Homo sapiens: one gene and its partners. The protein of the gene in region 1 interacts with the protein of each later gene in a pairwise test. Each region holds a gene or a part of one and is shown in the gene's direction. Other genes may lie near its edges. The genes, in order: NRF1, PLXDC1 and MVP.

Region 1 (3,650 bases):
AGAGACTTGTGAGAGTATTGAATTGTGATGTAAAAGGACATCGATTCTGGGGATAATTTTTACTTCACAGTTGTCAGATTTGAGTGACAATTGAGTAAAGAGTTAAAGATTATAGTGTGGTTATTGGGTGATGATGATGCCTTTAAGATAGGGAATGTATAGGAAGAACAGAATTTGAGGAGGAAGGTAATAGAGTATGACTCCAGATGTGTTAAGATATCTGGGAATCAAGAAAGGTCAAGTAAGTACCTGGGTATTTGGGCTGGAGCTCAAGGGGACATTGGGATAAATTAGGGGATTTGCATTCATCAGTATAATGCCATATAGAAACTGCAGAAAGCCAGGCATGGTGCCTCACACCTGTAATCCTAACACTTTAGGAGGCCAAGGCAGAGGATCACTTAAGGCCAGGAGTTCAAAACCAGTCTGGGCAACGTTGTGAGACCCTGTTTCTACAAAAATTTAAAAAATTTGTCAGGTATAGTGGTAGCCACCTGTGGTCTCAGCTACTCGGGAGGCTGAGGCTGGAGTATGACTTGAGCCCAGGAGTTTGAGGCTGTAGCAAGCTATGATAGGGCCACTGCACTCCAGCTTGGGTGTCAGTGTAAGACCCTGTCTATAAAAAAGAAAGAGAAAATAGTACAGATTGAGTATCCTTTATCCAAAATGCTTAGGACCAGAAATGTTTTGGAGTTTTTTTTGACTTTGTAATGTTGGTATGCATATAATGAGATACCCTGGAGATAGGGCCCAAGTCTAAACTTGAAATTCATTTGTGTTTCATATACATCTTACAACCTGGATGCAGTTTTATACAATATTTTAAATAATTTTGTGCAGGAAACAAAGTTTTGATTCCATTCTGACTGCAACATGTCACCTGAGGTCAGGTGTGGAATTTTCCACTTGTGGCATCATGTCAACACTCAGAAAGTTTCAGATTTTGGAGCATTTCAGATTTTAAACTTTTGGATTAGGAATGCTTAACCATATCAGGAGTGAAGAAAAAAAACTAAGGGCAACCTTGAAGAGCATCTACATCTGAGGGTCAAGTAGAAGAATAGAAACCTATGAAGTAAGTTGAGAAAGAATGGCTAAACAGATAAGGTTATAGGGTTGAAGAAGCTGAAGAGAGGGATTAAGTGAATACTGACAGGGAAGTTAGCCGTGTGAAATACCACAGAGTTCATTGGTTTGGAGGGCAATGCCGGAGGATCGCTTGAACCCAGCACTTCAAGACCAGCCTGAGCAACATAGCAAGACCTCGTATCTATTAAAAAAAAAAAAATCATTGGGATAAAAACTGGACTTGGCATACGTGTATATATATATATATATATATATATATATATATATATACACACACACACACATATATATACACGTGTGTGTGTGTGTGTGTGTGTGTGTGTGTGTATATATATATATATATATATATGTATTGTTTTGCTGGGAACCATGATAGTTTAGACAGAATAGATTTCTAGAGCATTACTAAATTCAGGGGTAGGTCCTACAGAATCTAACTTAGTAGAAGACCCATGCTTAGAAATAGGTCCTGTTCTTCCATGTCTCTCTGCAATGGGAGTTGCAGCTTAAATGCTTTGGGAGATGACCCCCAATGACAAGGCTGCCTAAAAATCTCCATATTGTTTGGGTTGTTTTTTTTTTTTTTTGCCTCTTTTACATTGTCTTAAATTCTGAGAATTGGAGATTTCATTTGAGTTGACAGTGTCTTAAAATACAAATAACCTCTTGCAGAGTTTTGAGGTTTTATGATATTAATATGTTAAGTATGGGGGTTTTTAACCTGGGGTTTTCTGGTTCTGGGGTTTATATATTTTGGCTGTGTGACCCTGAATCCCTTAAAATTGTTTGAAAAGTTATGTGTGAGTGCATGTGTGATTTTTCTGGGGAGAGGGTCCACAACATTTATGAGATTTTTCAAGGGGGCTGTTGACACACAGAAAAGTCAAGGGCCTTTACTAAATGTTAATGATTAAATCAAGTGTTGGTTGTGTTCGTTGGCTGAAATCAGTTATCTCAACAAGTGAGACAGATCAAGGGAAAGAAATCTTGAGTAGGTGTCTCAGGTGAAGAACTTTGGAAAGATACGAGGAACTTCTTAGAAATGGGAGTAGGAGCACCAGAAGGAAGGTAGGAGGAATGCCAAAGCAAAGCTTAACCGATTTCAGAATTTTGTCAAGTCTCTGGATTGCTTGGTTTTTTTATACTCTAGGACTGACACTTAGTATATGTTTATTCATGCACTGTAGATACAGTAGGCTTTATGGGGTAGGGGAATCAAATCACTTTTTTTTTTTTTTTTTTGAGATAGAGTCTCGCTTTGTCACCCAGACTGGAGTGCAGTGGTATGATCTTGGCTGACTGCAACCTCCGCCTCCCGGGTTCAAGCGATTCTTCTGCCTCAGCCTCCCAAGCAGCTGGGATTACAGGCGCCTGCCACCATGCCCAGCTAATTTTTTATTTTTAGTAGAGATGGGATTTCACCATATTGGACAGGCTGGTCTTGAATTCCTGACCTTGTGATCCGCCCGCCTTGGCCTCCCAAAGTGCTGGGATTACAGGCATGAGCCACCGCACTGGGCCCAAATTACTATTGTTTTAAAGGGAAAGTGTTTTGAAAGAAAACAAATTGATAGATTGTGCTTGTTGGAAAAAAATTTTTCTACCAAGCTGGCTCATCTGTCAGAAAAAATTCATTTTTAAGTTAGGTGTTGCTTATGCTTTGGAAAAAATTTTAAATGCACAAATATTTCAGTCTAGTGATATGGGGCAAGACATTTATTTTCTCCTTGCAAATTTTTTCTGACCATGAAATGAAAATACCGTTGATGGTTTTTGTAGTGTCTTTCTGAAATATGACGATTATGGAATACTTTGAGATCCAGGATGATTTAATGCTAAGAAATTGCTGGCATTCACATTTCTAAAGTCGTGAATAAAATTAAGAAATTCAAGCACATTATGTGTTCACTAGATCTTACTTGATTTCCAAAATATTTCTTTTTGAAATTTTAGATAATTGGTAATTTTTACTTCCTTCTGCTAATCTTTGCATCTTTGAAATTAGATTAGGAGGCAGTTTTGTCAGCTAGGCCCTAGTTTCTGGGGCAGTGATATCCATACTTTTGCTTGCCACCCTCAAAATAAATTAATGCCACTTGGGATTAATTTGTGATTTTTCTGGGGAGAGGGTCTACAACTTTTATTTATTTTACCAGTAGTCTTGGTAAATACAAGAATGATATGAATAAATATGTTGGGTAATCTTAAACTTGTGTTATGTGATTTGTAATTAGCTTGTGTTTGTGGATGATCTTTACATTCAGTAAATCTCCAAAGAGGGCCCAGATAGAATGGAGTATTTTGTCTTTTCCTTTGGGAACTTTTTTTGGTTCTTTCTTTCATTAAACAATTATGAAATAAAATTTTTGGTAACAGATCTTCCATGTAAAAATAGCCCACAAATCAAAGAACTAGCCAAGATTTGCTAAGTAAGAACACATCATGGAATACCATCATAGAACTAGTCTCTTACCCCAAAACTAGCTGTAGGTGCTAAGTCTAAAGAAGAAGTAATTCTGATATGTTACCAGAATTATGTGGTAATGCGACTGAGTGTTAAA
Region 2 (3,650 bases), on another chromosome or scaffold:
CACCCTGGGAAACAGTGGGGATTGTCGGTCACTTTTTACTGCACTTTCTGTGGTTCTGAGTAGGCTCTGGAGCCAGCCTGCCTGAGTTCAGATCCTGCCATGGACTGGTTCTGTGACCTTGGGAGGTTCCTTAACGTCTTTGTGCCTCAGTTTCTCCATTTGTAAAATGGATTTTAAACTAGTAACTATTTCATGGGATTATTGTGGGGATTAAGGGGGTGGATGTGTTTAAAGCCCCTGGAATAGTGCTAGCACAGAGCAGCATTCTCTGAAAGTCAGCTATCATTTTTATTACTAGGGTGATTATTATGGCATCCCACTGGACTGCACACTACTTGGGGCCATGAGTGAGTGAATCAATGAATGAACAGCTTGTGTTCCGGAAGCTCCTTGGCAACACATGCAGGCGGGGAACGGGTCCAGGGAAAATGGAGCTCTCTCCAGTGGAAGGCAGGTGGGGTGAGGAGTGGCTGAGGGTTGGGCAGGTGTCCAACTTGTGTGTGAGCACATACGGGAAGGCCGAGGCTTTCAGGAAAGTCTTTGTGGGCATGTGCACAGGCACGTGGGCCCCTGCACATACACGTGAGCAACCAGCTGTGTTGGCTTCTTTCATGAGTCGTGGGGATGACGTCCTGTCCCAGGCAACAGGGAAGGAAGGGTGGCCAGGAAACAGATGTAGTATGGGTTGGAAGAGTAAGATTCAGGGCTAGGCCAGGGTAGGCCAGGGTCCTGGTCAAGCTCCCTCTCCATCCCTCGCCCTGCCCTCTTTCATGGACTCTTTACCTCTTACCCTGGCCTGAGCTCTCTATAAAACCTCATTTGTGTTTCTCACTTGACGCTTATGGCAGCCTGTACTGTGGGCACCATCGTCAAATCCATTTGAGTCACTAGGGAGCTGAGGATTAGAGAGGAAAACTGATGGGGCTAAGGTCCCATAACTTGTGAGTGGCAAGACTGGGTGTGGAGGTCAACCCAGTGTCTCTTCCCTGGCCACCCCCAGCTGGGCCCCCTCCCTGTCCTTCCCCGGGCTGCAGGCCTCCACCATCCCGCCTCCTGTCTCGGCTCCAGGTTTGTGAATCCTGAAGATCCCCAACACTCCTCTCTGGGCCGCTGAGCCCCTCCACTTGTTCACTACCCGCTCTATCCTGTTCTGGCTCCTGCCCAGGCCCCAGGGCTGCTTGCAGGAAGACCTGGGGAGCTGGGCAGACCAGCCCAGCACAAACAGCTCTGTCTCCAGAAGCAGCTGTGGGCCCCACCCAAGAGAGACCAGACAGCCCTGGCTTGGGCCTGGGCAGTGGGCAGGCTGCCTTCCCAGCCCTGGACTCATGTCCATCTGTGGGCAGCCAGTGGGCATCTTGGGGAAGGGGTCTGGGGACTGCCCTCCTCCCCACGTGCTCCAGCAGCATCTGGTTGCTATTAGGGGCAGAGAAGTGAGAGGGGGCCGGCAAGGGTCCAGTAGGCGCCAGCAGCCAAGAATGACTTAATTGGATACAATGTCTAATGACAAAGCAGGGCCCCACAGCGGAGTTCTGGCCTCAGCCCCAGGCCTGGGCCTGGCCAAGCCTGGTCTCAACCTCTGTCCTTGCTGGCTCCCAGGAGCTACCCTATGCACTGCGTCCTCAATTCTGCAGTGATGGAGCACCTGCTGTTTGCTGGACATGCCAAATTTGAAGAAGGTGGAGAGAATCCTGGGGGAACTCAAATCTACCAGGGAGATAGGCACATAGTCGCACACGTAGGTGCTCTAGGAGAGGGAGAGCCACATCCAGGAGCTCTGGGGAGTGGGCTGGGGGAAGGCAGAGGTTGAGACAGGTATCTGACACAGGGTGGGCCTGAAATGGAAGAGGGTCATAGGTGGGGAATGTCAGATCCACCTATCTGATGGTCTGTTCTCATATATACATCCATAGTAGGTGTGACCATTAGAATGACAATAAAAGCCACAGCTTTGGGGGGCATAAATCTTTTTGAAGTGGAAAAGGATGGTTTTTGTGTTGTTTATTTATTTATTTGGAGAAGGAGTTTCGCTTTTTTGTCCAGGCTGGAGTACAGTGGCGCAATCTCGGCTCACTGCAACCTCTGCCTCCCAGGTTCAAGCAATTCTCCTGCCTCAGCCTCCCGAGTAGCTGGGATTATGGGTGCCCGCCACCATGCCCGGCTAATTTTTGTATTTTTAGTAGAGACGGGGTTTCGTCATGTTGGCCAGGCTGGTCTCGAATTCCTGACCTCAGGTGATCCACCCACCTCAGCCTCCCAAAGTGCTAGGATTATAGGTGTGAGCCACCACGCCCGGCCTTTTGTTAGAACTAATTTAACAGACCTGGTGCAGTGGCTCACGCTTATAATCCCACCACTTTGGGAGGCCAAGGTGGAAGGACCGCTAGAGCCCAGGAGTTCAAGGCCAGTGTAGGCAACATGGTGAAACCCAGCCTCTACGAAAAATACAAAATAAAATAATAATAACTAGCCGGGTGTGGTGGCATGCAACTGTAGTACCAGCTACTCAGAAGGCTGAGGTGGGAGGATTGCTTGAGCCTGAGAGGTCAAGCGTACAGTGAGCTGTGATTGTGCCACTGCACTCCAGCCTGCATGCTAGAGTGAGACCCTGTCTCAAAAAAAGCATGCATTTAACAACCTAGAGGGAACTGGAGAGGAGATCATGGAACCTAAAGCCATTTCGCAACCTCCAGAAATGGAGGTTCGCATGGCCGCGAAATGGCCTGTGTGTAGTCACTTTCCAATCCTGTGCCCATGGCAGACATTGCTTATTGATCTTCACAGTCCTTCCTGCTAAATACAAGAGGAGCCTTTGCATTCTCAGTTGGAGTGCCTCTGGCTGTCACGAATGGATTGCAGATGGCATGTGATATGAAACCTATTTGCCATCCTAGACAGTATCTAGGTAGTGATAGGAGTAAAACAGTAAAAAATTACCCCTCCCTCAATGGGGCAAGGGGGGGTTAATTTTATTCCCCAGGGGATATTTGGCAATGTTTGGAGACGTTTTTCATTGTCACAGCTTGGGATGGGGAGGAGCGTGGTGCTACTGGCATTTAGTGAGCAGGGGCCAAGGCTGCGGCTGCTAAACATCTTACAGAGCACTGGACAGTTCCCGCATAACAATGAATTATCCAGTCCAACCAACAATCCAATTTAAAAACAGGAAAAAGACTTAAATAGACATTTCTCCAAAGAAGATATACAAATGGCCCACAAGCATATGAAAAGATGTTCGGCATCACTAATCATCAGGGAAATGCCAATTTATAAAAACGATGAGATATAACCTCATACCTGTTAGGATGGCTACTATAAAAAAAACAGAAAATAACAAGTATTGGCAAGAATGTGGAGAGATTGGAACCCATGTGCACGGTTGGTGGGAATGTAAAATGGTCCAGTCATTTTACATGGAAAACATTTTATATGGAAAACAGTATGACAATTCCTCAAAAAATTAGAAATAGAATTACCATACAATCCAGCAATTCCGCTTCTGGGTATATACCCAAAAGAATTGAAGGCCAGGTCTCAAAGAGATATTTGTACACCCATGTTTGTAGCAGCATTGTTCACAATAGCTAAAACGTGGAAGCAAAACAGACATCCATTGATAGTTGAGTGGGTTAGCAAAATGTGGTATATCCACA
Region 3 (3,750 bases), on another chromosome or scaffold:
TGCTGGCTGGGCGTGATCACACATGTAGTCCCAGCACTTTGGGAGGCTGAGGTTGGGGGGTTGCCTGAGCCCAGGAGTTCAAGACCAGCCTGGGCAACATGGCAAGACCTTGTCTCTTCTAAAGAGAGATTCCTGGGTGAAAGCAGCTTCCCCATTCTGGGCCTGTTTGTTCACAGGCACTTTGAGGTGAATGACCGGAAGGACCCCCAAGAGACGGCCAAGCTCTTTTCAGTGCCAGACTTTGTAGGTGATGCCTGCAAAGCCATCGCATCCCGGGTGCGGGGGGCCGTGGCCTCTGTCACTTTCGATGACTTCCATAAGAACTCAGCCCGCATCATTCGCACTGCTGTCTTTGGCTTTGAGACCTCGGAAGCGAAGGGCCCCGATGGCATGGCCCTGCCCAGGCCCCGGGACCAGGCTGTCTTCCCCCAAAACGGGCTGGTGGTCAGCAGTGTGGACGTGCAGTCAGTGGAGCCTGTGGATCAGAGGACCCGGGACGCCCTGCAACGCAGCGTCCAGCTGGCCATCGAGATCACCACCAACTCCCAGGAAGCGGCGGCCAAGTAAGTGAGGCTGGGAGCTCGGCTGCCTATAATGCCCATGGCAGGCCACTGCTGGGAACTGGATAACCTGGCATCCCTTGTGGACTGCCTGCTGCCATCCCTACCCTCAAAGATCTATTCCCTACCCAACAGATCAGGTGACCCACTTAAAATGTGAATCAGGCTGGGCGCGGTGGCTCATGCCCGTAATCCCAGCACTGTGAGAGGCTGAGGCAGGAAGATCACTTGAAGCCAGGAGTTTGAGGCTGCAGTGAGCCATGATTGCGCCACTGCACTCCAGCCTGGGCAACAGGCCTGGGAGACTGACCCTGTCTCAAAAGAAAAAAAAAAAAAAAAGCACGTATCAGATGTGGCTCCTGCAGCCTCCCATCTTGCATGTGATAAAACCTAAACTCCTTCCTGCAGCTCCAGCCGGCCTCCCCCGATTTGCCTTCTAGCCTCCCCCTTCCATGCTCCTCGTCCCTGGAACATGTTCCAGCTGACATGTTCCAGCCCCACTGGCTTCCTCTGCTCCTTCAATGCACAGCTTGGACCCACCTGAAGGCCTTTTGCAATGGCTATTCCTGCTGCCCAGAAAGCTTCCCCCCGCCCCTGAGCTCCCTTCCAGGCAGGCTTCTCCTTCTGGCTTCAGCCCAAAGATCCCCTCCTTGGGGAACACTTTTCTTTCTCTCACAGCTGAATAGCACCCTCTTTGCCTGGTCTCTCCCACACTTGTCACTGTCTGAAATCCTCCTTGTATACTTGTTCTTTTCCCACTCAAGTGGCGTGAAAGTAGGGGGCCGCAGTCACGCCTGCATTTGTCCGGCCTAGAATGACACTGGCTTGTGGCGCGTATACCATTCTGGGTTGAGTTGCGTATTGGGTGCCTTCTAGGGGCTGGGGTCTGTCCTGGGCACCGGTTTGGTTGGTGGCCGCTGCCCTTGGCGCTCCTGTTCCTGCTCTGGCCCCATGCCAGCCTCTCACCTGCGCTCCGTCTCCTCCAGGCATGAGGCTCAGAGACTGGAGCAGGAAGCCCGCGGCCGGCTTGAGCGGCAGAAGATCCTGGACCAGTCAGAAGCCGAGAAAGCTCGCAAGGAACTTTTGGAGCTGGAGGCTCTGAGGTGGGTTGAGAACTAGAGGAGGAGACTGGCAGGGGCCGAGGGTCTTAGGACAGCAGCTGGTGTGGGCAGCAGGCCTGGGTGGGGTGTCGATGAGACAGTGCACGGCTACAGCATAAGCCAAGGCCGTGGGGGGACTGGGCTGTCTCCCGGGTCTTACCTGACTCTGCCTTCTCCCCAGCATGGCCGTGGAGAGCACCGGGACTGCCAAGGCGGAGGCCGAGTCCCGTGCGGAGGCAGCCCGGATTGAGGGAGAAGGGTCCGTGCTGCAGGCCAAGCTAAAAGCACAGGCCTTGGCCATTGAAACGGTGAGTGGGGGGAGGCATTAAGAAGAGGGTGGCCTTGAGTCCTGGAAAAGGCCCATTCCCTACAGTCCCTGAGACTGTATAGGACACCAGGTCCCCCAACATAAAGCCCTATCCAAGTACTTTGCATTTGCAAAGTCCTTTGCCTTGTAGGATTCATTGACTCCATTGCTGGAAGGTAAGGATTAGAACACCCATTTTGCAGCTGGGCGCTCATGCACTGGCCACCTTGGCACAAGTGCTGTGTATGCTTCATAGGCATTATCTTATTTAATGCTTGAAATCCCATTAAGAGGCCGGGTGCAGTGGCTCACGCCTGTAATCCTAGCACTTTGGGAGGCCGAGGCGGGTGGATCACCTGAGGTCAGGAGTTCAAGACCAGCTTGGCCAACATGGTGAAACCCCATCTCTACTGAAAATACAAAAAATTAGCTGGGTATGGTGGCATGTGTCTGTAACCCCAACTACTTGGTAGGCTGAGGCAGGAGAATTGCTTGAACCCAGGAGGTGTGGAGGCTGCGGTGAGCTGAGGTTGTGCCACTACACTCCAGCCTGGGCAACAAGAGTGAAACTCCATCTCAAAAATAAAGTAAATAAAAATAAATGTAAAAAGAGGCCTAGTGTGGTGCCTCAGGTCTCTAACCCCAGCACTTTGGAAAGCTGAGATGGGAGGATCATTTGAGGTCAGTTCGAGACCAGTTCAAGACTAGCCTGGGCAACATAGCAAGACCTCATCTCTACAAAAACAAAATTTTTTAATTGACTGGGTGTGGTGGCACATGCCTGTAGTCCCAGCTACCCAGGAGGCTGAGGCAGGAGGATCCTTTGAGCCAGGAGTTCAAGGCTGCAGTGAGTCCTGATCTGCATTCCAGCCTGGGTCAAAAAATAAAGAATGATTGATTTTTCCTCTTCCAGGAGGCTGAGCTCCAGAGGGTCCAGAAGGTCCGAGAGCTGGAACTGGTCTATGCCCGGGCCCAGCTGGAGCTGGAGGTGAGCAAGGCTCAGCAGCTGGCTGAGGTGGAGGTGAAGAAGTTCAAGCAGATGACAGAGGCCATAGGCCCCAGCACCATCAGGGACCTTGCTGTGGCTGGGCCTGAGATGCAGGTGAGAGTTGGGGAAGGTGTGTTGGTTTCAGGACCAACCTTGAAACCAGGAAGGCAGAGCCAAGGCGGAAAACACAACATCTGGAAAGATTGTGGGGAAGGGAGGGGTGAGTGACCTGACCCACGATGCAGGGACATTCACACAGTGTCACGCTGCATCAACGTCAGGCACTGTACTAGACCCAGCAGTGAGCCAGAGCTCCGGAGGAGACAGGAAATGGATGGGACGCCAGTCTGACAGGCATTTCCAAGGCAGTCAAGCAGGGTGGTCAGATGCAGGGGAGGTGACCCTTCAAACCAGCTGACTTAAGGAGGGTCACTCTGAAGTGGCCAGGGTTTGACGCCCATCTCAACTTCCTCCTGTTCTCACCCTCCAGGTAAAACTGCTCCAGTCCCTGGGCCTGAAATCAACCCTCATCACCGATGGCTCCACTCCCATCAACCTCTTCAACACAGCCTTTGGGCTGCTGGGGATGGGGCCCGAGGGTCAGCCCCTGGGCAGAAGGGTGGCCAGTGGGCCCAGCCCTGGGGAGGGGATATCCCCCCAGTCTGCTCAGGCCCCTCAAGCTCCTGGAGACAACCACGTGGTGCCTGTACTGCGCTAACTCCTGATTAATACAATGGAAGTTTCTGGGCATTTACAATTTCAACACTTTTCTCTTGTCTGACATTGGTTGGGGTT

The links.
Region 2: the proteins of NRF1 (region 1) and PLXDC1 interact in a two-hybrid assay, tested with the Homo sapiens proteins (one large-scale study listed by BioGRID).
Region 3: the proteins of NRF1 (region 1) and MVP interact in binary tests that used the Homo sapiens proteins (3 or more experiments, as listed by UniProt).

The regions. Positions count from the first base shown.
Region 1 is NC_000007.14:129,618,076-129,621,725, forward strand, and holds part of NRF1 (nuclear respiratory factor 1), read left to right. Parts: intron 1-3,650. UniProt on the Homo sapiens protein: Transcription factor that activates the expression of the EIF2S1 (EIF2-alpha) gene. Links the transcriptional modulation of key metabolic genes to cellular growth and development.
Region 2 is NC_000017.11:39,141,501-39,145,150, reverse strand, and holds part of PLXDC1 (plexin domain-containing protein 1 precursor), read left to right. Parts: intron 1-3,650. UniProt on the Homo sapiens protein: Plays a critical role in endothelial cell capillary morphogenesis.
Region 3 is NC_000016.10:29,844,317-29,848,066, forward strand, and holds the end of MVP (major vault protein), read left to right. Parts: intron 1-176; coding exon 177-563; intron 564-1,546; coding exon 1,547-1,663; intron 1,664-1,841; coding exon 1,842-1,968; intron 1,969-2,880; coding exon 2,881-3,069; intron 3,070-3,445; coding exon 3,446-3,673; 3' UTR 3,674-3,705; downstream 3,706-3,750. UniProt on the Homo sapiens protein: Required for normal vault structure. Vaults are multi-subunit structures that may act as scaffolds for proteins involved in signal transduction. Vaults may also play a role in nucleo-cytoplasmic transport.